Regions from separate parts of the Homo sapiens genome. Here regions 1, 2, 3 and 5 are each linked to region 4. Evidence: fine-mapped expression QTL. A gene starts in region 4. Each other region holds a variant in brackets. All regions are shown on one strand. Distances are from middle to middle. Region 1 has its middle 180 kb from the start of HDAC9. Region 2 overlaps HDAC9 (histone deacetylase 9). Region 3 holds the start of HDAC9-AS1 (HDAC9 antisense RNA 1). Region 4 holds the start of HDAC9 (histone deacetylase 9). Region 5 overlaps HDAC9 (histone deacetylase 9).

The links.
Region 1: its variant is fine-mapped to the expression of HDAC9 in lung (TOPMed, PIP 0.94).
Region 2: its variant is fine-mapped to the expression of HDAC9 in fibroblasts (GTEx, PIP above 0.99).
Region 3: its variant is fine-mapped to the expression of HDAC9 in unexposed skin (GTEx, PIP 0.97).
Region 5: its variant is fine-mapped to the expression of HDAC9 in cerebellum (GTEx, PIP above 0.99).

The regions. Positions count from the first base shown.
Region 1 is chr7:18,309,485-18,314,595 of GRCh38, forward strand. It overlaps a transcript of HDAC9 not described here. Among named protein-coding and RNA genes, the nearest start is that of HDAC9, 180 kb to the right of the region's middle. The variant G/A (reference allele first, on the strand shown) is at 2,416.
Region 2 is chr7:18,989,412-18,994,522 of GRCh38, forward strand. The region is part of intron 25 of HDAC9 (histone deacetylase 9); the gene reads left to right. Among named protein-coding and RNA genes, the nearest start is that of HDAC9-AS1, 90 kb to the left of the region's middle. RefSeq lists an enhancer at 571-1,072. The variant A/G (reference allele first, on the strand shown) is at 2,005.
Region 3 is chr7:18,896,940-18,902,050 of GRCh38, forward strand. The region is part of intron 22 of HDAC9 (histone deacetylase 9); the gene reads left to right. HDAC9-AS1 (HDAC9 antisense RNA 1) reads right to left here and starts at 5,053. Exons shown (of 3, transcript XR_927081.3): 1 at 5,000-5,053. The variant C/A (reference allele first, on the strand shown) is at 2,732.
Region 4 is chr7:18,493,059-18,498,169 of GRCh38, forward strand. HDAC9 (histone deacetylase 9) reads left to right here and starts at 2,691. Exons shown (of 26, transcript NM_178425.4): 1 at 2,691-2,965; 2 at 3,204-3,266. The coding sequence starts at 3,245. RefSeq lists an enhancer at 2,420-2,469.
Region 5 is chr7:18,562,779-18,567,889 of GRCh38, forward strand. All of the region lies in intron 2 of HDAC9 (histone deacetylase 9), which reads left to right. Among named protein-coding and RNA genes, the nearest start is that of HDAC9, 70 kb to the left of the region's middle. The variant G/A (reference allele first, on the strand shown) is at 2,399.

The DNA of each region.
Region 1 (5,111 bases), 180 kb before region 4:
AAGGTAGCCTCACTGTTCCCCAAAATAACATCCTTCCATTCTCCCTGAGGAGAGAAAGGCCTCTATTCAGTCATAGATTACAGTATGTGTGCTGAGTATGTTAAGAATTCACACAGTTTAAACAAGAGGGAACATTTGGGGACTGTTTCCAAACAGGGAACATTTATTGTTCTATAAGCAAACCGAACCTAAAGAACTTTCGGGAACATTTGTTGTGGTAGCATGTTATCAGAGCCTTCTCATGCCGTGATGAGATTGTTCTCAATTAATAAAACTAAATCACTAGATTTTAAAACTGACTTGGATGAAAAAAAAAGCTCAAATTTACCTACTTCAATATCTAGAGTTTTAAAAAATATGCTATTATAATAAAAAATATTTAAATATTTCACATTAGTTGCAAAGGATGAAATCCAGGTGGTCCTTGTTTGTGATATTAAACAAATGTGTTGAAGCAATGTGGTAGGGCAGTGGTCCTCAAAGTGTGATTCCTGGACCATTAGAAATGCAAATTCTAGGCTTTCTGGTTCAGACACTGGTGCAGCCCAGCCATCTAGATTTTTAACTCGTGTTCCTGATCATTCAGATGCACACTTTAGCTTGATAAGTGCCCAGATAGTGTAGAGACTTTCAAGCTATCCCAAGGCCTGCCAGATTGGAAAGAGGGAGGACTGTGGTGGGGGGGTGGGGTTGGGGGGAATGATCAGGAATGGTTCCCAGGCTTCCCCATGTCCATTTCAACTATGGGAACTTTGATTTTCTGTTTTACGTATCACAGAGTTTTATGTTGGGCTCTGTGACTACACGGTTTTGAAAAACACTGGGATAGATATTTCTTTGGAGGACGATATACCATGGCCCAGAAAATCTTTAGAGAATAACAGCATCTCTGGCTGTGTTCACATCATTTTAGCAATATGTGTGTCCTGAAACTGAATTTGGTCAGTAAAGTAAGAGTTAGCCTGTGTGTCAGTGACAGCCTCATGTTAACCAGTCTCCTAAGGAACACATGTACAAATCAGAAATGCCAGTTGTATTTTTCTAATTACAATCAGAGGCATAACAAAAAATTATGCATACACTCACGTTTAACTTCTCCTGATACTCGCACTGTGCACAAGTTAACATTTAGAGTTGGGAATATCCCAACAATCCCTTGTCCAGTGATTGAATTGTCCATGATACCAATTCAGGCCTCCACCTTTGATATATACCTGCAGGTGTGACATAGACATCATACAGCATTGTTAACTTACAGCTATAGAATCAGGGGAAAGAGAAGTTGACATTTTCTACAGATTTTTATCAACTTGTACAAATCCATTACACACACACACACACACACACACACACACACACACACACTCTCTTACTAAATTGCTGAGGGCCGCTAAATTCAGTGTCTTTCTGAACCATGTTATACAAATCTACTCTATTATCTCTTTCAAATTTCTATTTCTAAAAAAAGTTATATATTATTGATGGTTATTTATATAGATTTTTAATATCATTAATTAAATTGTAATAAGATCTTTATGTTAATGTAACTTTTTGCTCACATCAATTTTATATTGATATTATTTGTTTACCTCTCAGTTCTGGAGAGAGGTGATGATGATGATGATGATGATGACAAAAATAGGTTACTGTTTTTATAACAAGGATTCTGCAGTTAACATTTAGAGGTCTTACACAGTACCAAACAGTGTTCTAAGTATTTTATATTTATTAATACTTTTTATTCACACAGCCTACTTATGACAAAAGCCTTTAACCTTTTGAACATAACCCCCAATGAAAAAATTGAGATTTGGTACATATATACTTCCTTTATGTATATATTGTATATGATTAGGAAAAGAAATAATGAATCAACTTTTATTATATCTAATAACTTGTGAGTTTTTATTCCCTTCCATTTTATTATGTTTAATTTCAGTTTTAAAAGTCCAGTTGAGATTCAGAAAATTGATTTCATTACTCACATTAATAGTCACAGCCTGCAGAATAAAAAATTGTGCTATCAGATAGATAATATTATTATTTATATTTTACAGATGAGGAAATAGGCACAGAGAGGTTAGGTTAGTTGCCCAAATTTACATAATGAGTGGCAAATCCGCAGTTCAAACTTAGGTAGTCTGTCTCCAAAGCCCTCGCTCATAGTACTATATTCTGTCTTACCTAGTCAGCTCCTTCATATTCTACTACTGTCAAGGAGGGATGAACCAAATGGGGAATGTTTTTCTCCCAAATATGGGGACAATATAGTGACAGCCTCAAATTTTCTAAATAGAAGGATTTAGAGATGAAGGAATGGAGACTGGCTGTAGACTGGCGTTAGAGCTACTTTTCCATTTGAAGGCATCCTTTTATTTAGGATGTGTGTTTGTTTTAGGAAGTATTTGTAAAGAG[G/A]CTGATGGAGATTACTGTGGGGGGAAATGGCTTTTGCCACTGAACCACCCTCTTGGCACTACCACGGGAAATTTATTTTAAACAATCTAAAGAACAGTAGGTGGAAAAGATGTGTACCCAGATTATGTGGACCTTCCTGGTGAATGAGGAGAGGACAAAGTGATTGTAGGGCCTATTGTCCTGACTCCTTCTAGGGCATACAGTTAGAGGTGCAGGACTGCTACCATGGCTGCATATTTTTGAACACAGACATATTCTTTCCCTGGTGCTTTTAAATGTGATTTAAAAATATGTGTCAGATGAGCAGGCACAAAATGCAAAGATAGGAGAGCCATACAGTGAAAAATCTATTTCTCCATCTTTTCCTTGGTTGTCTCTCTTTTCTCTCTCTTTCCTAGAAACAATCACTGTTGTCTCTTTCTTGTGTAGCCTTCCAGAATGCTATGCTGTGTGTGTCTGTGTGAGTATCTGTAGTAAACATTAAAATATTACTACACATTTTCTGTGCCTTGAATTTATTCCTCTTATTTTATGTTTCAGATTTTGTTCCACATGTGGAAGTGCCTTGTGCCTCCTTTTTCACTGCTACATAGTAGTTCATTGTGTGGGTTTTCCAAAATTAATTTAACAGATCCTCTGTTAGAAGACATTAGGTAATTTATAATCTCTTGCAAGCCTGATTATTTTAAATTTAAATTACACCTAGGGTTCTGAGTCCTCTATATGGTCTTTTATTCTTAGCAGAAGCTTCACAACTCTCTGGGTCTTCAGCAGGGACTGATAAAGATCAAATTGTTGAATTAGGTCAGGTTTGTGTCAGGAAGTTGCTTGATCTCAGTTTTCTTAGATGGCTATTTTTAGCTTGTGAACAGTAATCATGGTAAGAAATCTTTGTATCTTGCCCTAGACAATCTTCTCTTGGAAAATTAAAGTGGCCCCCTTTAAAAGATTTAAGAAATGCAATTTGCTAACAGTTTAATGGGTTTATTAGGGACTTTGAGGGTATATTTCTAGAAGGAGAAATATTTTTGTTTCTCTGAAAGTTCTAGCTACTTTATTCTCCATAGCCCTTAAAAACTTTTCAGATTTGTCTTCCTATAATTCGTAGAGATTTGGAAAATTAGACATAAGGCACCTGTTTTCTTAAATGCATGGTTACCTATTCCTTTGTCCTATCCTTTCAAGACAATTCTGGGAACAGTTTGTTCAGCTTTACGAAGAAAACATTTCTTCATCACCTGAGTTTTCGGTCACCCATGAATTCTAAGAATATTTTAGCTGATTTCAGGGAAAAAGTATTCAATATTAGTGATTGATAATTATATGAAAAATAGACCAGTAAAGCAATCAAGTGGAAACTTGGTAGAAATGTATAGATAAGTGACCTGGTCCATTCTGCATTTTTCTGATTCAATTATATCCACAGTAACTCAGAGATAACAAAATTGGTGCTATGTAGCAAATAATCTGAAGAAAATAATGCTATAAATTCTTTCAGAAGTGATTTCAGAATTTAATATTTTCCTGTCAGGAGATTTATGACCTGACACTGAGAATTATTAAGGCTCAGATCCAAATACTTAGTTCATTTTCTCTTGCTCAGCATTTAGTAAAGATGTGGAACACACTAGTCAGATACTGGTTAGTCAAGCTCGGAATTCAGGATTTCATATCCTTGTCACCATGTGTGAACTTTGGAATATTTGGATTTTAATATATGCAAATGCTTTTATAATGTGTGATGTGTTAGGTGAAAATTATTGCACACACTAACAATTTAATTTAAAATGCTACTCTTGAATATTTTATAAACCACTGGAATAATAACATAGCCTTAATGAATATAAAACTGTTTCTTCTTCCTTTGTTAAATCATGTGGGCTGCATTCTACTTAATACACTGCCTCAATTTATCCTTTTGTGCTAAGATTTTAAGTTAAAATAGAAAATAAACAATAAATCAAGTTGGACTGCAATCATGTTCACTTGGGAAATTTCACTTAGAGACATTTGATATATTTTTGGAGGGATTTCAGGGATCTACATTGGTTAAGTTGAATCTGTAATTTGGTTATACATAAAATTAAAGTTAATCTAAGTGGACAGAATCAATACTCTTGTGAGTTTAATTAGATGGCCAGCTTCCAAGCAAGAGATTATTCTTTTTACTATCCTCCTATCCTCTTTCCTTAGGCAGCAAAATAATTCCTTTGCCAAAGTATGTTGGACAGTTCCCTGGTGACAAGTTCTATAGAAACTCATAGCTATGCTGTTAGCAATGTGAGACAGAAGGGAGGGATATGTGGGTGAGGAGGCCATTGTATTCTAGAGATAGTAATAAGCCTGCCTTATCTCCAGATCATAGCCCAGCCAAAGGGATAGTGTCCCATTTGCAGAGGATCTGCAGTCACTGTTTCTAAACCAAACCTATAAAACAGGATGGTGTTTCTTTCAGGCTGAAAAATCCCAAGACAGAAAAACAGGAAAAGTCGGGGAGATAAATTATAAATTAGACTGGACTTGCAGTGTGAGAATCCTGCTATTAATAGTTACGTTTGATATGAGATGCCTGGAAATGTGGCAGTAAATTGGAGTGAGGTTTTATTTCAGGTAATAACTTTCCTTTTATCTCTGTTGGTGCATTGGCAAGAAAATCTAGAAGAGTTTTAGGAGGACTGGATGCTATAACCTTCATT
Region 2 (5,111 bases), 500 kb after region 4:
CCAAGAGATCCGCTCTTAGTCTGATGGGCTTCCCTTTGAGGGTAACCCGACCTTTCTCTCTGGCTGCCCTTAACATTTTTTCCTTCATTTCAACTTTGGTGAATCTGACAATTATGTGTCTTGGAGTTGCTCTTCTTGAGGAGTATCTTTGTGGCGTTCTCTGTATTTCCTGAATCTGAATGTTGGCCTGCCTTGCTAGATTGGGGAAGTTCTCCTGGATAATATCCTGCAGAGTGTTTTCCAACTTGATTCCATTCTCCCTGTCACTTTCAGGTACACCAATCAGACGTAGATTTGGTCTTTTCACATAGTCCCATATTTCTTGGAGGCTTTGCTCATTTCTTCTTATGCTTTTTTCTCTAAACTTCCCTTCTCGCTTCATTTCATTGATTTCATCTTCCATTGCTGATACCCTTTCTTCCAGTTGATCGCATCGGCTCCTGAGGCTTCTGCATTCTTCACGTAGTTCTTGAGCCTTGGTTTTCAGCTCCATCAGCTCCTTTAAGCACTTCTCTGTGTTGGTTATTCTAGTTATACATTCTTCTAAATTTTTTTCAAAGTTTTCAACTTCTTTGCCTTTCGTTTGAATGTCCTCCCGTAGCTCAGAGTAATTTGATCGTCTGAAGCCTTCTTCTCTCAGCTCATCAAAGTCATTCTCCGTCCAGCTTTGTTCCATTGCTGGTGAGGAACTGAGTTCCTTTGGAGGAGGAGAGGCACTCTGCGTTTTAGAGTTTCCAGTTTTTCTGCTCTGTTTTTTCCCCATCTTTGTGGTTTTATCTACTTTTGGTCTTTGATGATGGTGATGTACAGATGGGTTTCTGGTGTGGATGTCCTTTCTGTTTGTTAGGACAGACAGACAGGACCCTCAGCTGCAGGTCTGTTGGAGTACCTGGCCATGTGAGGTGTCAGTGTGCCCCTGCTGAGGGGTGCCTCCCAGTTAGGCTGCTCGTGGGTCAGGGGTCAGGGACCCACTTGAGGAGGCAGTCTGCCCGTTTTCAGATCTCCAGCTGCGTGCTGGGAGAGCCACTGCTCTCTTCAATGCTGTCAGACAGGGACATTTAAGTCTGCAGAGGTTACTGCTGTCTTTTTGTTTGTCTGTGCCCTGCCCCCAGAGGTGGAGCCTATAGAGGCAGGCAGGCCTCCTTGAGCTGTGGTGGGCTCCACCCAGTTTGAGCTTCCAGGCTGCTTTGTTTACCTAAGCAAGGCTGGGCAATGGCGGGCGCCCCTCCCCCAGCCTGGCTGCCGCCTTGCAGTTTGATCTCAGACTGCTGAGCTAGCAGTCAGCGAGATTCTGTGGGCGTAGGACCCTCCGAGCCATGTGCGGGATATAATCTCCTGGTGCGCCGTTTTTTAAGCCCGTAGGAAAAGCGCAGTATTTGGGTGGGAGTGACCTGATTTTCCAGGTGCCGTCTGTCACCCCTTTGACTAGGAAAGAGAACTCCCTGGCCCCTTGTGCTTCCCAAGTGAGGCAATGTCTCGCCCTGCTTGGGCTCGCGCATGGAGCGCGCACCCACTGACCTGCGCCCACTGTCTGGCACTCCCTAGTGAGATGAACCCGGTACCTCAGATGGAAATGCAGAAATCACCCGTCTTCTGCGTTGCCCATGCTGGGAGCTGTAGACCGGAGCTGTTCCTATTCGGCCATCTTGGCTCCTCTCGATCTTTATTCTTTTGTTGCAAATTCTTATTTTGTTCTTGATTTAAATTATCATACTTGTAAAGAGCACTGAAATCATTCCAACATATGTATATAAACATTTCAAAAAGTATTTATGGGATGTCTAGTATGTATACAAAATGGTATAACATTGGAGGGGGGAGATGAAAAAGAAAAATGAATGAGGAAATGAAAGAACATAAAACAAAATTCACAAAATACGAACTAATATATGAATTAGTTATATATAAAATCAGTTTGTGAATACTGGAAAGATAAAGAAGTCATCAGGCTGGGCACAGTGGCTCATGCCTGTAATCCCAGTGCTTTGGGAGGCCGAGGCGGGC[A/G]GATCACGAGGTCAGATCAAGACCATCCTGGCTAACACGGTGAAACCCTGTCTCTACTAAAAATACAAAAAATTAGCCAGGTGTGGTGGCAGGCACCTGTAGTCCCAGCTGCTCAGGAGGCTGAAGCAGGAGAATGGTGTTAACTCAGGAGGCGGAGCTTGCAGTGAGCGGAGATGGTGCCATTGCACTCCAGCCTGGGTGACAGTGAGAGACTCCGTCTCAAAAGAAAAAAAAAAAAAAGAAGTCATCAGTGAGATAAACAGACTTACTTATGACACATACTTATGAAAGTCATTTGATTCTCTGTCTTTTACTTTAGCTTTTGTGGCTTACTAAAATTCAAATCTTTGTCCAAACTGATTAGTTATCAAATAAATGCAAATTTGAATAACAAGAAGGTATTGTTTTACATATATTAGATGGTAAACATTCAATTAGAATATAAGGTCAATGGAGAATGTGAGTTCTATGAGAGCAGGGATGTTTGTCTATTTTGTTCATTGCTATGTTCCTAGTGCCTAGAACAGAACCAGGGCACACAGTACACAGTCAGCAACTTTTTCTAGAATCAATGAAAAATATGAGTAAACTAAGTATTGCTAGCATGGGTGGAGATGTGGGGCTTTAGAGCCTCACTGCTTTGGGAAGATAAACTATGGCAGCCATGCTGCATACTAATTTAGTACCATTTTATATACACAAAATATATGACCTGGTAATTTTGCTCTTGGGAATGTATACCAAAGACATTCTCAGCATAAGTCTTTAGAGTACGTATACTAGGAAGTTCACTACAGCTTTATTCATGGTGAATAGAGAGTTGGAGTCAAGCCCAGTGTCCATTATTGGGAGAATGAATAGTTAAAATGTGGTGGATGCACTGTATGGAGATGCCACGTAGAAGTTACCAGCTTCAAACTAGATAAATATAAGTGCATGACAGATCTAGTAAATACAGTACTGAGTGAGAAAATTATGCACATGTGTATAAAGTTAAAATTTACATAAAATAAAAATATATACCCACAAAACAATAATACACAGCTTTAAAGAACACTTGCAAACAAAATAATGTAACAGGCATTGTATTGCTTGCCTTTCAGGAGGAAGAGGAGTAGAAGTAAGAAATAAGAATTAAATTAAATCAGTAAAATGAGAAAATGTTTTACTACGTAACAGTGTTAATATAAATTAAACAAATGCTATTTTTAAAACCACAAGAAATAAGATTTAAGAGAGAATACAAGAATTTAATTTAATACTACATCTTGTCTCAAGTGAAATTACTTCCTTTTTTTTTTACTTTTGTAAATTATCTTATGGCTGTTGGAGTGAATTGATCCTTCTTTAGGATATGAAATCTTTGATTATCAATGACAGAAAACTATCAGTGTTCACTGTGACATTGACTTGCTGGAGGGAAGCTTATGTCTTTCAATTCGTTAAACCATTATACTAAAATTTATCTTTGCTGGGTTGATTTTATAGTTATCTCCGAACTTACTGTCTTCAGCTCCCTGCATGTCTTTCCTTCCCCCAGCTTGTGTCTTTGTTAATCAAGGTGAAGTAGACATGTATCTAGGGATGGCTGAAGTGGGAAGCCCCCAGATTTTCAGAGCACTGCTTCTCATTCCTCCAAACACAGCCATTAAAGGGTCATCACTCACCAGATATCTTTCTAAATGTTCCATAAAGAAATCATCTTTTTTAAAAATGTAGACATATTTTTTGATTATATGAAGATAATGCCACCTCTACTGAGAGCTAGGGCTATGAGAAGAGAGATACTATAAATTGTCCCAATGGCAGATATAAATAATCCAGTTATTTTACAATTGTTTCACACTTCACAGTGTATAAATCATGTTTTCTTACATTAACTCGTTTCAATTCTCATAACCGTGAGGGCAAGTAAGGGATTATTATTTCTATTTTAAAGATAAAATTGACAATCTAGAGACACTGACTGACTGATTCAAAGTCAAATTTTCGAAAGTAAAACAGCTGGGACTTGAACCCAGAACATCTACCTTGAAATCCAGGATATTTTCCAACTTACTATGCTACTAACACTTCTATGCTGCAAGACGCTGGGGAGAATTGAGGCTAGACATGGTGGCGTACCCCTGTAGTCCCAGCATTTTGGAAGGCTAAAGCAGGAGGATCTCTTGAGCCCAGGAGTTCAAAACCAGCCTGGGCAACATAGCAAGACCCCATCTATAATTATTTTTTTTTTAATTAGCCCAGCATGGTGGCACATGCCTGTAGTCTCAGCTATTCGGGATACTGAGGTAGGAGAATGGCTTGAGCCCGGGAGGTTGAGGCTGCAGTTAGCTGTGACTATGCCACTGCACTCCAGCCTGGGCAACAGAGTGAGACCCTGTCTCAAAAATACATAAATAAATGAAAGAGCGAGAGAGAGAATTGGTTAATTATGCATATGTGTAGATGGTTCAATAGAAGGTGGGCAGCTATAAGTGGTTTATTCCAAAAAAAAGAGGTCAATATAAAATGATTTCAAAGAGAGGAAAAGGCAGAGAAGCATCTGATGGAAAGCTTTCTATTGTACCTGCAAGTTGCCCTGTTTCAACCAAAGAGGCTTAATTTTTGGCAGTGAGTGGGTTGCAGTGTAGACAGCCTACTCACATCCTTTAAGCCTAGGTTGGACATGTGGAGAATTCACAGATCCTCCACCACAGAGACATGTGGATTCCTTACATCTGTGACCTCTGAGACATTTCCCACACGTGACTGTCTCTGGAATTCCAGCCACACTGAATCCTGGATTCGGGGGAAAAGATTATCCTGCTGCAGCTTGAGTTAGAAATTGGAAAAATCGGTCTCCATTAGAATATCCAGTTTGAGTTCTATAACTGTATTATTCACATATTCTCAGATGTAAATAAGGCTATATATTTATGTATGAATTAGTTTCAAAACTTAAATGTCTTCCTTAATTTAAAATCTTTCTTCTTTGAATGCTGATTATTTTTGATAGAAAAGACTTTTCTGAAGTATGACTCATTTATCTTATGTACCACCTCTAAACTCTCTCTCACAACCTCCTTATCCCAGACACTCTAGGACAGGCTATAACTTCTTAAGAA
Region 3 (5,111 bases), 400 kb after region 4:
TTCCTGAGACCATAAACATGAACACAGAAAAATAAGGTGTTTTGAACTACTTCTGCATACAATGACATTGTAAAGGATTTAGCAATATGTATTCATTAAGTCTAGAGTATGCATATGCTCATTTTTTCTAGTTTAAAACCACAACCTATATCTTCCTTGAATTTCCTGAATATAATAAATTTTAAAAATAGAAAAAAAATTTAATTAAATTTGGGGAAAATAATGGCTGAAAAAATCTGGTCTGACTGAATTTTTCAGAAATAGCTTTACTGACATTTTTCTACATAATTATTTGTAACAGAGTGTGGTTAAGAAATGTGTACATCTGATTTAAAGATGACTTTTGAAGAAAAGGTAATAAAGCCTTTCAAATGATCGCTTATTGAATAATTCTCGAAAATCTAAACAAAGACTTGGAAGAATTTATGATTTGTCAAAACTCTAGGACTTTATAACTTTTTCCTTTGTTTTCTTAGAATATAGCTATAAGATAATAAATAAAAATAATGTGACTCCTAAAATGCAGTGTTACAATTTACTAAAAATTGTTTAAAGAATGCTATGCGGAGGTTTCTGATCCTTCCTGTTTGCTCTGCTACCTTTTTCTGCAGAATATCTAATAATCATATTTGTAGGTCATATCAATTCAACCATGTTTTACTGGAGAAGATCTTGCTAAACTGCTTGATTTGGCAACCTAAAAGGGTGAATAATGGGCTATAATTCTCTACATAATATTTTAAGAATTGGAGTCTACTTAAAGATTTTATTTGCTACTCATTATATGTGTAGAATGAGTATAATGAAGTTTTAAAAGTGGTTATAAAACAAATGTTATGTTTTCTCTATCTAATTGCTCTTTTAAAATATGGTTACTTAAAAAAAAAAAAAAAAATCCCTCCATTTCAGCTAAGGGTCTTTGCCACCAGGGAACCATGCATGGATCCAATGCTTTTAAATATCGTGTCCATGTGTGATCTTTCTAGACACAGTTTTTTACTGTCACTTTTAAAATGTTCCCTATAAGTCAATCTCTTCAGGAACAAATACATTTTTGTATATGCATGAATAGTAAAATATATTTCACACATTTCTTTAATCATCTCCTCTGGACCATAAAGTCATACATGGCAACTGACCTTGTAAAGCACCATTTTAGACATTTCTTGGTGGAATTATTTCTTAATGATTGAATCATTCATTGATTTATTTGTTTTGTTTTAAAACATTTATTGAGTTTTTAACATTGGGGAAGCATTCATAGTCTATTAAGACAGACACATACACAATTATGACAATATATTTGTAAAATAATATTCTATGGGAACATAGATGAAGAAGTACATCAGATTACCTGGTTGAGTAAAGACCTCACTGACAAGGTAACTTGTATATGGCATAAAAAGATGAGTGGTACACAGCCAAATGGAACAAATAGCTAAAAATTTTTTACATAAATATTTTAAAAATTCTAAAAGCATGTTATATTTTCAGAAAAATAATGAGTGGCCTCATGTTAATAGTGTTTGAGGTATGTGAAGGAGAGTAATTAAGAGAACATATTATTTCTGAAGGCGTTTCCTTTGACCACAAAATACTGTGAGTTTTATAAAGAAATATTGAGAGAGGCAGTATCTCATTTTATCTAAGTTACAAACTCAGAGAAAGGGTATGTACTCAGAGAAAGGGTGTTTACTGTATATATATCTACTTACTTATCTATCCATTGATCATCAGTCTGCTTATGTTGGAATTCACATTTACAACATTTGAATGGAAAAAAAGGATAAGACTTTTTTTTTATAAGTGAGTCTGATTTAGTTGATTGGTGTGACAAGGAAGACTGGTATTGTCTATCTGATTGCATAGTGGACATTTTCCATAAATTGAATCAGCTAAATCCAGAGGTCCAATATTTTGAGGAAATGTTTTTAAATCACTTACACAATATGCTTAAAAGTATATCCTTTAAGAAATACTAACTCATAAAAATATTAGACATCCCCTTAAAAGACGAAAGAAGGTATATAGTTTTTCAAATTCTGTTACGCTTATGCTACCAAAAAGTATGAAGATTGCTGAGTTAGGAAGTTATTGCATAGGGAAAGTTTCCAAAGTATGGCTTAGGTTTTGGAATCTCCACTAAGCAAACTGTTATTAATGAAAAAACATGTTTTAATGTTAGGATATATTTGCTATGGTTTGGCTGATTGAAAACATAACTTTTGGATGACAGCTAGACTGTCGTCCCTATTAATAAAAATGCTGTTTGGGTGTCTTGTCAATAGAGGACACTTTTCTTGTAGTGCTTAGATTTGAAGTGAGCTCCTATGTGGTAACTAGTAATTAGTAGGACTGAGTTTACTCACCTGATGTACTGGTATAATTTTTTTTTTCCCTGAAAGTTACTTGCTCTCCCTATAGCCAAACATGAACTTGATGTCTTCTTTTTTATTATCTTTTCTGAGATTGATGAAGAATCTGACAACCTAGGCTAGATCATGTTAAAGATGTTGACATGATGGAAGACTGTCGATTGCCAATAGTAAGTTTCAACTATGTAACAATTAAATAGATCGTACTTCAAAAATTTTATAGATTCAGAATCTACAGATTTTAATCATTTGGTTTAGTCCAGTTAAAATTAATAGTATATTAATTATTTCTTTGGAAGACATGGTGGTTAGCTTACCTTATAAATAATGTGAATACAGTGAGTTAATGATACAGT[C/A]TTTAAAAATCTATAAGCCTTGAACTATTCAATGTAATTTGTTATTTAACAAATTATCAGTGTAATTTGTTATATAACTAGGGTTATATAGCCCTAGTAGTATGGATAAAGATGGATATCCACACTAATCACATCTAACTTTTAACAAGCTTCATACTATCTGTGACCTGTAATATAAAAAAATTATCTTCAGTGTGGAAATACTATCAGAAAAATTCAAATTTCTATTCTCACAAATTGATAATGTGCATTTTCTGAAATAAAGTGTTGTTTGAAAGACTTGATAATACACACACAGAAAGATGATAGATTTCTCTGTACATGGATTTCAAACAAGGAGTTTCTCTAATTTAAAAAAAAATGAACTGGTCACACGATATATTCAAAACAAAACAAAGACTTCTATCAGCATAACATTCCAGAGGTTTTTTTCCCTGTCCAAAAGATGTATGAATACATACAAGAATTTTGCTTTAATTGTGATACTCTTAATTTCAAGTCTACAAAAACAACTCAAATCTATACATGCGCACACAGGTGCACACACACTAATGCACCTATGCATACTATCATTATTTAGAAATCAAAGATAAATAAATTTAAAATATGTCTCATTAGGACTGGGAAAACTCTAGGGTGCTTCTTCATGCTTTCTAAGCATGAAATGTACTTGATCCTGGGATGCTGTGAAAACGATGATTTAGCCCACTGAAGAACAGATGGCCCTTAATCACCCCATGTGGCTAAACACACAAATGCCAACCTCAGAGACGCCTTACCTTTGCCCTGTCTGTCCCCTCTAGGCTAGTCCTGCTATATTAAGGGTTATTGCCTTTCTGGCCCTCCCTGCAATCAGCTTTTGAAGTCCATGGCCAAGAAGGCAGTGTGAGAATACCATTATGAGAGAGGTGTTTGCTTAAAGTCATAGTCCGGACAAGATCCCATGGACCCCTTGATAGTCTAGCAGGGAGCCACAAACTTTAGCCAATATCTTCTAATTCCCTGAGGATTCAGAACTGCCCACCATAAAAACATAATGGGCTGTTTATCTGAGCAGCCAGAAGATAACATCTTAAAGTTACAATCTGGGTTACAGACTGGTGACATAAAGCAATAAGAAGTACGAATACCACCCCTACCCTGGGAAAAACAACATGTGAACAGTCTAGTGTATAGATACCACTGGATGCCCTTTTCTCATGCTAATAAGAGCCACAACTTTCCCAACATTTTTCTGTTAAATAGATTAAATATACTTGGGAAGAAATGGATGGACCCCGCCCCTTACTCCATTTGCATGCTTTATACTGTTTTTGAAGTTTGGGACTATGTTAGGAAATATTCCCACTGGCACAATCAAGTGAATTTTTGTGGCACATTTTGACTTCTTTTCAAAGATTGCTTAAGTCCTGTGACATTAATCATGATCTTCTAATAATATACTACAGAGATTCCCAAAAAGATACTTTATTCCCAAGGCTCCAATACTGCAACAGATCAGACTCTCTTTCTCTCTCTGTATATATACTATATATACATATATATATATATACACACACACACACACACACACACACATATATACATATACATATATATATATATAAAATTGTATGAATAATATATTTTGTTCCTGTGATTCTTTGACTCTCTGCTGGGACAGAATTAAAATATCTCAGAGTTAAAAAAAATCCTCTTTTTTCCAAACGCCTGTTATTTGTCTGCATTGCTGACATTAGGGAAAAGAAAAGCTAGGTTTGATATTTCAACTGCATCAATTGAACACGTAATATAGTGGAGACTTTACAACTGTTTGTTTCTGGTAAGCCTGTTTGTTATTATTACCAGTCAACTGGGAGAATCCAATGCCTGTAGGGGATCCCACCCCCAACAAATGAATCTCTATGATTATGGAGAGTGACCAAATTAACCACATAATTGCTAGACTTAACCTCATTGTATAGTATGGGTATTTTACCACATATAAATATGGCCATGAACCAACTATATCTCAACCCACTTGGTTCGTTTTAAACATTTCCTGAACATCCAATAGGATTGTTTTCATAACTTATCTTATTTAATCATAAAAGTTGTTTCCATATATCAGTCCAGTATTTTTAATCTTTTAAATGTTCACATCTGCATATATACATTTCTAATCTACTGCATTTAACAAGCAGCTTTCTTTTTTATTTGTCCCAAGAGTATGTCATATTATTATTTTATGCCAGATTCAATTTAGTCACAAGTTTTGTCTGGCCTTACCTACTGTATTTTCTTCTACCCTTTCAGGAACCCTGTAAAGTGGCAGAGGAAAAGTTACACATGAAATTGCCCTAAAGTGTTTGGAAACAGCTTCAGTCACAACTGCATTGTG
Region 4 (5,111 bases):
GTATTTTATGTGGAATGCCCTTTCCTGGATCCTTTAAGAACTAGGATAATTACTAACTCAGTCTTCTGGAGTTTTATTCTATTTTTTATTTTTTATTATAAAAGCTGAGAGATCTTTTTTTATCAATTGTTGTTTGAAGGTGTAATTTAAACTTAAAAAGACAAAAGATGCATAGGCATATTGTATCAATATGGTGATTTTGTTATCTCTTTTGTATATTCATCATAAATTTTTGTATTCTGTTAAAAATCACTCTGAAACAGACAGTGGGTCCATTTTTCATCAGTAGATCATATTAAATTTTATTTGGAATATCTCAGATAATGATTTGTATCATTTTGGTAAGGGACAAGATGGTGAGACTGGATAATATAAATGCTAGACCTATATGGTTAGTTATTAATTACCTGTATTTCCTTAAGCTACTGTCTTTAAAGCCTGACTCCAATAGTGAGTCCTTTTGTAATCAAGCCTCCTTCGTTTCCTCATGAGTGAATTTCAATGATTGTTTTTCTTAATATAAGAAGTTCTTGTTCTGATCTCACCACAAAAAAAATGGTAACTAGCTGAGATGATAGATTTGTAGCTTGATTATGGTAATTATTTCACAAGGTATAGGTGTATCAAATCATCAAATTGTACACCTGAAATATAAAGAATCTTGATTTGTCAAATATACCGCAATTTAAAAAATGTTCTTTACATAAATGTTTTGTAGAATAAAAAAAAAAAAAGTTCTTCAAAAGAAATCTCAAATCTCCAAATGGAAACAGGTAAAAGTGGAGCTCCCCTGGTTCCACGGAGAACCTTTTTTGAGGAAACTTAGGCAACTCGCAGGTACCTTATGTCATGAGACAGAGTTTGAAAACTACAATTGACTATCTCTAAATTTCCTCCCAGGTCTAAAATGTGATGATAGTTACTACTTCAGTACATCATCCTTAAGGAAAATTATTAGGTCCACACTGTTTCTATCCTTTGAATTTTACACATAAATTTTGTAATCAAAAGTTTATTTGTAATATCAGATGGAATCAGATAATTGCTTTTTGTTTTTTCCACTGACAGGAACATAAGATTTTGTTGTGTAGCTTAAGTCAAACGCAGTTTGGAATATATATTTTTTAAAAATTGTAACTTACATATCCAAATACAATTTTTCAAGAAGTAGAGTATTCAGTAGAAATTAATCTGTGAAAGAAGAGGAATTCAGCAGTGGCCTATTTGATGAATGATTTAACGTGCTTATTTCTTCCCTTTCATCAAAACTCTGTGTCCCCTTGTTTGCCCCCTCTGACTTCATACTCTGGAGTTGACCAAGATCCCTCTTCCATCGGATTGTTCTGGGAATTTTGAAATAATCTGCTTTTTCCTCTCTTTCCCCTGTTGCTTCTGATGCCTTAGAATTACATTTTCCTCGCTGATTTAGTTTAGAAAAGAGAAAAGAGCTTCCATGACTAGTAGATTATCACTTTTGGGTTTGCTCTTGGAAGTGACAAGATGCTAGGATCCCTCTTTGGAATGTAAAATTTATCTCTTATATAGAAAGGATATAAATGTAGCACCAGAGACTATAAAACTCTGATACTATCTACTGTACTGTATAGCTGAACGCCACAATGTGTCTGGTAATCTATTGACTATCATAAATGCTATTTCTACAGAAAAGTTAGGAGGTCCATATTTCGGGCAACCAATGTATAGCTGAATGCAGAACAGTCATAGTTGGGTACTAACCATATATATGATTTATCCATCAACAGGTGCATATGCTCAGAAATTCTGTATCCATAAGAAATCAGACTACTTTCTTTTCCTTTTGCAAGTAAATTGAATTTAGCCTGAGAGGCTGAGGGGAAATTTTCACATATAAGCCACGGTTTTGTGTTTTGTGTTTTGTTTTGTTTATAGATATAGTACTAACTGGATGGATGCGATAAAATTCATAGGTGGTACTAAGATACAATAGGATTTGTGAAATGGACAATTGTCTTGCATAAATAGCAAGTAAAAAATCAAGCCTGTCCTTCATAAAAATTTTATTCTGGGGTGTGCTTGTTTTCCAAAAGTACCTCTGCTAAATCTCCTGTTAGTCCTGAAACTAGAAGGCAGAAAAGCTTCTAGTGCTACAGCCAACTGCAGTGTAGCCTGAGAAACAGGCAACAAAAATAGAACACCAGGATTGCTGTGCGTGGGTGAGGCAGAAACCACATTATGAGCAAAAGCTTCCAGTATTATTTTAGAACCAATACAGAGCTCTGTACTTCTCTCCTCTCTCTTCCAAAAACACATACTACAAAAATAAAATGAAATGAAATGTATGTGCATTTGCCCTCTTAGAATTATGATTCTTAATTTTTTTTCTTGCCTTCCTTTCTTTGGAAGCGAATCGCCAGTATGGAAACACAGTGTGTAAAGCAAGCTTCGAGAGAGGAAAGAGTTAATTGGTTTTAAGGCCCTGCGATAGAGAATTATGGTTGGAAAGATAGAGGCTGGACAGCTGGGTTTGCTGGGGTATTTTTAAATGCATTAATGCAGGCTCCAATCACTCGGCCATGCTTGACCTATTTTTGGCTCAGGCCGACCATTGTTCTATTTCTGTGCCTGTGGGCCATGCTGTTGTTGATTCATATGCAAATGGATTATCACTCGCTTTAGCCAACTTGAGCTGAGAGAGACTGAGAAAGGGGGAAGAGAGGCACAGACACAGATAGGAGAAGGGCACCGGCTGGAGCCACTTGCAGGACTGAGGGTTTTTGCAACAAAACCCTAGCAGCCTGAAGAACTCTAAGCCAGGTTTAATTGGTTTCTTTTTCTCGTGGGTAGACTTAATAATTTTCTACGTATTCTGACAAAGAAATAACCCCGAAGCACGTTCCTATTTCCCACCTGCTTGTAGTTTCCGGGATAACCTAAACTCCAGAGAGCTATAGCATCCACTCTGTCCTTTCTGCTTTGCACACAGGTTGGTAACATGGGAAAAGTGTCCAGGTCTTTTTAAAAGTGGATGCCCATTTGAGCAGAAAGGAAATCATTGTCGAAGTTGATCCTCTGCTGCTTCTCCTCAGGGAGGAGGGAGAACCAGCGAGGGTAGCTCCTGGGGCCGGTGCACTGAGCAGTGATGAATGTTTCATGTAGCTGAAGTAAGAGTGACTGGAATATGCTGCAGACAATTTACGAGAGTGACTCCTGTTTTTCCTCAGATGGGGTGGCTGGACGAGAGCAGCTCTTGGCTCAGCAAAGAATGCACAGTATGATCAGCTCAGGTAAGATCCTCTTTCATAACTGAGACGTTTTAGGTTTGAAAGGGGGCTGGCTTGGGAAATGCAGCTAAGAAAAGCACCTCTCTTAAGGAAATTGCTGCTTTTTCGTGTTGATGTTGCTATTTTCTTGGTGCGTCTGTAGGGTTTAACTTAGATCCCTTCCATTACTGTTTCTGTGCATATTCAGTCTGCTTAGGGACAGCAGCTTCTGAATGAAATTGCAAACTATTGCTTCTGATGAAAGATGAGACTGAGATAAGTAAAATGTAGTTGGGGGTGTTTTGCCTTTACTATGCAACTAGAAAAAGGAGCTGTGTACTGATTGTAAGCCTATTCTAATAGGACTTTAAAAATCAGGTAAGTTCATATTGGGGCTTCAGTTTAAACTGCAGCCCCGCTAGCCTGACGATTTTATATTTACTCTGTGCCTACAGAAGCACATCTATTTATAGACCTACCTTCTAAAATGTGTTTGCCACAGAGTTATAAAGGTAGTTTTCTTTTTTCCATTATGTGGCTTTTTCTCATCAGCCCCAAATGAAACTGTTTAGGATGAAATAAAATTGTTATTAGCAGATGCTTATTTTAATTTTCTTCAAAAACATGTGGGAAGTCTAGCATTGTCAGGCAGATGTGATGGCATAACACACATGTAAATGTGTTAAAAGCAGGTGCAGCGTTTTAAAGGATAATAGGAACAGATTCTAATTTCTAGTTTCTCAAGGAGATGAGCTGGTGGGAGATTGAGCTTGTCAGCCTTGTCAATTTATACTTACTAAATGAACATACTCTCCAGGCAGTATCACTTAACGTGTAATTATTGCCTTTCATATTTATTTCCTATGGCTATTTCCTAAAGCTTTGGGAACTCTTTGTTTCTGTCCTCTTCTGAATGTTTCAACCTAAAATTGGCTTAAAGTTCTCACTTAGATCCCACTTCCCATGTGGGCTTAATCGTAATTATAGATCACCGCCTAGATTTCCATGATAAGAATGCCACATAAAGCAGTGTTTACTTTGTAGAGCTAGGTGTGAAAGAAATATTCCACAGGTTGGCATGATGTCTGTTTTGGTGTTAATACACCTTCCCATATGGGGATCTATGTTTAAAGCTAGTTTTCTTTAAACCTTGGTTAGTTATGTTAATTTTAAGATCCTTCTGTTGACCCAATCTTTTCATGGAATCAGAATAAAATATCAATTTTGCATAATTTGGTATTTATACACTTAAGTGACAGGAATTATGTTAATGAATAGTGCCTGCTTAACAAAAGCAAACCTACCAGAATTTCAGTACAGTTTATTCTTATAGCTGCAAAGCTGACAAGGGCTCCGGGAGGGTTTAACAGGTATGTCTCTAATGGGACTGGTCATTTAACTTAGCATTTTATTTTTTAAAATATGGATGAACCCTTTGAAAATAACTATTTTAGAAATCTTTTCAGCACTATGCTTTATCCTTTTAGTCCTCACTTCTGTGTTACAAGTTTGATATTTTTTTTCATATGGTAGAAACATACATGCCTTCCAAGTAGCAAGTGTCTGCTGAAGCTAAGGCTGGCTACAGGTGTTTGCAAGCTTTGCTTTTTTCTCCACATCTTTGATAATCACATACAGCTTTACACCCATTTCAGTAGAGATTGTCATTTTCCTAGCATTTAATGGTTTGTGTACAAAGCAACAAGATTTTCAGACAGGGAAGTGCTTCAGGCTGTCCATGCTTTGGCCAGTTCTACAAGAAGCAACATTTAAGCAGCAGCTAGCTATTAAATGAAAAGTGATGTAGGTTAACATCAACTCCCAAAACCTGTCTGGTATAAATACATAATCACTAAGTTCTATTTATTT
Region 5 (5,111 bases), 70 kb after region 4:
GCCAGGAAAAAAGATGGAATTTTGGTAGGGATTTCATGGAATTTGTGGATGAATTTGGGTCATATTGCTATCTTAATAATATTAAATATTTAACCTATGAAAATGAAATGTTTTTCATTCGTTTAGATCTCCTTTAATTTCCTTCCATACAGTGTTGTAATTTCGATGTACAAGGTTTGCACTTTTGTTAAATTTATGCCCAACAATTTTGTTCTTCTTGATGTAGGTCATGTTTTATTGATTAGTTATTTATTTTGGTTGTATTTACTGATCAAATTTTCCAAGATTTCATAAATATATTATGATATATTTTGACAGAAAACTTTTGTGATGGCTAAGAAAGGTTTATTCCATTTATGTGCTCCCATTTTTGCTCTCAAATGATGTTGCCCACTGACTTTAAAATTAATTTCAAAAAGTTCAATGTGGCCGTAATAGTGCTATTATAATCTCAGTATATCAGTGATTTTTAAAAACGGATTTCTACTTGTTTTATACAATTGGTCTTCAAATCCTGCTATTATACCTTGAAAATGTCTCTCAAAGTCATCTTTTTTTTTCCATCCTGTGTTAAGCATTTGAAATATAAAATATATAAGCCTCCTCCAAAAATATATAAGCTCCAGTTATTCAATGGTTATGTTTTTGTTATCTTCTTTTGTTGTTATTGTTAGCTTATTTTAGTTATTTCCCCATTTTCCATCCCCTAATATCTTTTACTCAGAAAATTTTCTTATAACCCCTACAGGCAGAATTAATTTTTCCTGTTTCTGTGATTACACAATGTATTTAAGGTGTTTAGCACAATATTCGTTATAGAGAATAGTCTCAAAACATGGCACCTGTCACCATCTCTAGTTATCTATTCAAATCATCAGTATTTGCCCATATCATACTCTATATCTTTGGTATGTTTTCTTGCCATCAATTCCCTCAGAACCACCCAACCCCCCCCATGAACTTAGATTATTTTTTTTTATTATACTTTAAGTTCTAGGGTACATGTGCACAACATGCAGGTTTGTTACATAGGTATACATGTACCATGTTGATTTGCTGCTTTTTTTTTTTTTTTTGAGACGGATTCTTGCTGTGTCTCCAGGCTGGAGTGCAATGCCACAATCTTGGCTGACTGCAACCCTGCTGTCCTAGGTTCAAGCAATTCTCCTGCCTTAGCCTCCAAAATAGCTGGGACTACAGGTGTGTGCCACCACGCCCAGCTAATTGTTTGTATTTTTAGTAGAGACAGGATTTCACCATGTTGGCCAGGATGGTCTCGAGCTCCTGACCTCATGATCCGCCCGCCCCGGCCTCCCAAAGTGCTGGGATTACAGGTGTGAGCCACCGCACTCGGCCAGATTGTAAATTTTTTGACAACAATGACTATTCTCCTCATCTTTCTATGTTCAAGGCCTGCATAGTTTAGAAACAAGGAAACAGTACAGTTGCAACCATACAATTGAAAAAAAAAAATTGTCCATGGCTATAAATTAATTAATCTGTCCTGATTTTATGTCTGTCAAATTATAGGTAGTACTAACCCAGTAAGAGCTTTATTGATAAATAAATGAGAAATTACAGTTTTATCAAGTGTGAGGTAATCCCTTTTTTTGGGGCTTGCTTATTTCTATTAAGCTTCCAAGTATTTTTTAAAAGACAATTTGTATTCCTGGCTTTATTTTACAGTTTGGTTTTATCTATTCTATTTGCATACTGAGAGGAAGCTGGTATATAGCAGTCTAAGCTAAATGAAAAATAAGTGCGCAATTCTAATATTCAAAAACAGGATAGAAGATGTCCATTTTTATTTTTTTATTCTAAATAGGAATAATATGCACTATAATGTTTATATTTCTTCCAAGTATCTTGTACCACATGCTTATGATTGACATTGGGCCTCTATACCTATTCCTTTTCGTTAAGAGACTACTTTTGTATTAACATTTTACCATTAGATTTTATTGAAACACTATTCAAAGTCCTCAAAATTTCAATTTTATACCTTTTTATTTTTCTGTAAGATGAAGCAATGTCTTTAGAATGTTATTTTAAGCTCATCTTTGGGCTTCCACTGTTTCCTCTACTTGCCCTTATTTTAAACTGGAAAATCCATGAATGTAATGACCACATCTTAGGCTCTTTCATATTTCAAATGCCTAAGCCAGCATCAAATAAATGTATTTTATTTATTTATTTATTTATTTATTTATTTATTTATTTATTTATTTATTATTTTGAGGCGGAGTTTCACTCTTGTTGCCCAGGCTGGAGTGCAGTGGCACAATTTGGCTCACCGCAACCTCTGCCTCCCGGGTTCAAGGGATTCTCCTGCCTTGGCCTTCCGAGTAGCTTGGATTACAGCCATGCGCCACCACACCCAGCTAATTTTGTATTTTTA[G/A]TACAGACGGGGTTTCTCCACGTTGGTCAGGCTGATCTCAAACTGCCAACCTCAGGTGGTCCGCCCGCCTCAGCCTCCCAAAGTGTTGGGATTACAGGCGTGAGCCACTGTGCTCAGCCAAATAAATGTATTTTTTAAAAAATATCCCATGGTTTGTTTATCATATAATGTAAAATCAAGAATCCAAATATTTTTCAAAGGGTAGAGAATTTCTGTGAGTAATTTTTTCCTCAGCATCTTAATATCCAAACTCTACTTGCTCACAAGATTACTTAATCAGCATCATATCAGAGACAGCTTGCTGTGTTTACCATTGTTAGTTGGGCCAGCATATGTCCAAAACAGTTGGAATGAGAAAAACAGCCTTGACTTGAAGCCAAATTAGAGAGGGAGGAGGAGAAGAGTTCTTTAGCTGTTGAACAGGACTACATATTTTGGACAGTGTAGGGTACTTCTGTAGAAAAAAAGAAAAAAAAGGGTGGGGAATTCTTTCAGCCAAAAAACAAAGGTGCATTTTGAAATATCTAAATGCACTGAAATAATAAAAGCAAATTGGTGATGTTGTTTTAATTTTATTTATATAAGCCTTTGCAAGTAATGAAATCTTTTTATGTTAACCAAAAAAAGAAAGAAAGAAAGAAAAGTATTCTAAGATATTTATAATGTGGATAATTTTTTTTTTTTTCAGTTTTACCCTGGCAACTTTAATTGGCTTAGTGGTTTCTAATTCTGGGCAATTTTCTGTTTCTTTATTAAGCAATGTGGGAGCTGTTGAATAACCATCACATTTCATAGGATCAGAATAATATTTCTGATTTTTCTCAAACTGGGTATTATATTACTGTATAGTAAAAACTTTTTAAGTGAGGAAAATGTCTATTCTTGTTTTGCTAAGTAACATTACAAAAAGTAGATATTTTTGTGCATTCCACCCCCTTAAGAAGCAACTATTGTAGAAAGTGGTGTTTTCATTGAGAGAGAAAATGGAAAGTAATATTTTGCTATTTATTATGGAAAGTTAGAGGAGAGGTTTCCAAATACCACAATCAAGGAATAAAACAATTTTGACCACAACTGAATTTTATATATCAGGCAAAGCCTGTCCTAGGGTAGTTTTTAATTAGATAAAGCTTTCTTCAGAGTTCCTGCTTTCAATTCTCTATCATTTCTTATCTGGTAGGGATCCCGCTTGCTTCCTAGTACCTCTCCCTTTCTTTACATCAGAATCTATTATGTATGGTGGTTATTGATTTACCCAAAGAAGTCAATGAAGGCCAACAGCAGTTGCCTTTTGCATGAGATATACTTTCTGATAAAGACTAAAAAAGTAAATCACACACACATACACACAATTTTTAGGTGGGGAGGGAATAGCTTTGGCAGTAGAGGAAGCCTTGGGAATCACTGTTTTACCTCCCTGGTTTTATTTGTTTTATACATGAGAAACCCAGGATCCATAGACGTGGACTAATCAAGACTAGAACTGGAGACGCAGTGTTCTTTCTGCCAAATTCTGTTTCTTTACATTGACAAGGTATTGGGCATTAGCAAGCAATTGAGAGTAGACTGATAGAGATGTTAATTTATTCATTACTTGTTCTTTAAAACAACTGTATCCCATGCTTGTGAGAATCAAGCAAGATGACAAAGGTTTGTTACCAACGAGTTTGGTAAAGCATTTTCAGAGGAGTGTAGTGGATGTAGTAGGTTTGTACTCTAGGACCTGGAGGTGAGAGAAGACAGAGGAAGGATGTACCATACCGTATGTTCAGAATCAAACCTTCCCTCAGGTCCTGAGGTTATCAGGTCAAGTGTGTCGCAAGGCCTAGCTTCCTCTTTGCTAAAGATGAGTTTTTCTTAGGTGGTGCCTTAGTCATTCATGCAAATAGACATCTGCAGTGCCAGCCCCACCTGCTCTCCAGACATGCCCAGTAGTTTTTGAACCTTGGCTTTGAGTATGTCCTGCAGCATGCCAAATTTATCTCGAGGGGAATAAGCCCAAGTGAACCGCCTACGTAAATCTAACCAAGACAGGCCTGATGTGGCGGGTTGAATTTCTATGTTGAACTAAGGAATCGCATGGGGTTCTATGGCTATACTTCTCCCCCCTAACTGGGCAAGGCGAGGAAACCTGAATAACAACCCCTATACAAGAGCATTTACCTTAGCATAGAGACAAATTGCACTGTTTGTTGTTCTCTCATTTCTTTTGTTTAACCATGATAATACTTACCTTTTTAGCTTCAAGATTTATAAATTCCAAGCAATTCATTTAAAGCATTTTTTTAAAAGCTTGAACTTAAAATTTTGTATAATGTGTTCTCTAGCTACTGAATATTCTACTGGTCTAATCTAAGTTATATTATAAATTTTGTGGAAAATAAGCAGAAGCCATTTGATTCAGAATGCCTTTGCTAAGCTCTATGATTAGCAATGTATTTCCTATGATTTTGGGTTATATAAATTTAAATTTGCATTAATATCTGGAACAACATTTGGGTAAATATTTTTCCCATAGTTTTTAAACAATACCTAACTACCAGAACTATCTTGCATGAAGCACAAAATTTCTGTAGTGGTTTGACTACAGATCTATTACTAGGGTGATAGCCAAACTTGTAGTATTATTATTGCAGCTTTGAGGTGTATAAGATGTTTCTTTAAAACCTCAAGGTTTTAAAACATTCAGAATAAACTATATCAACCCACACAT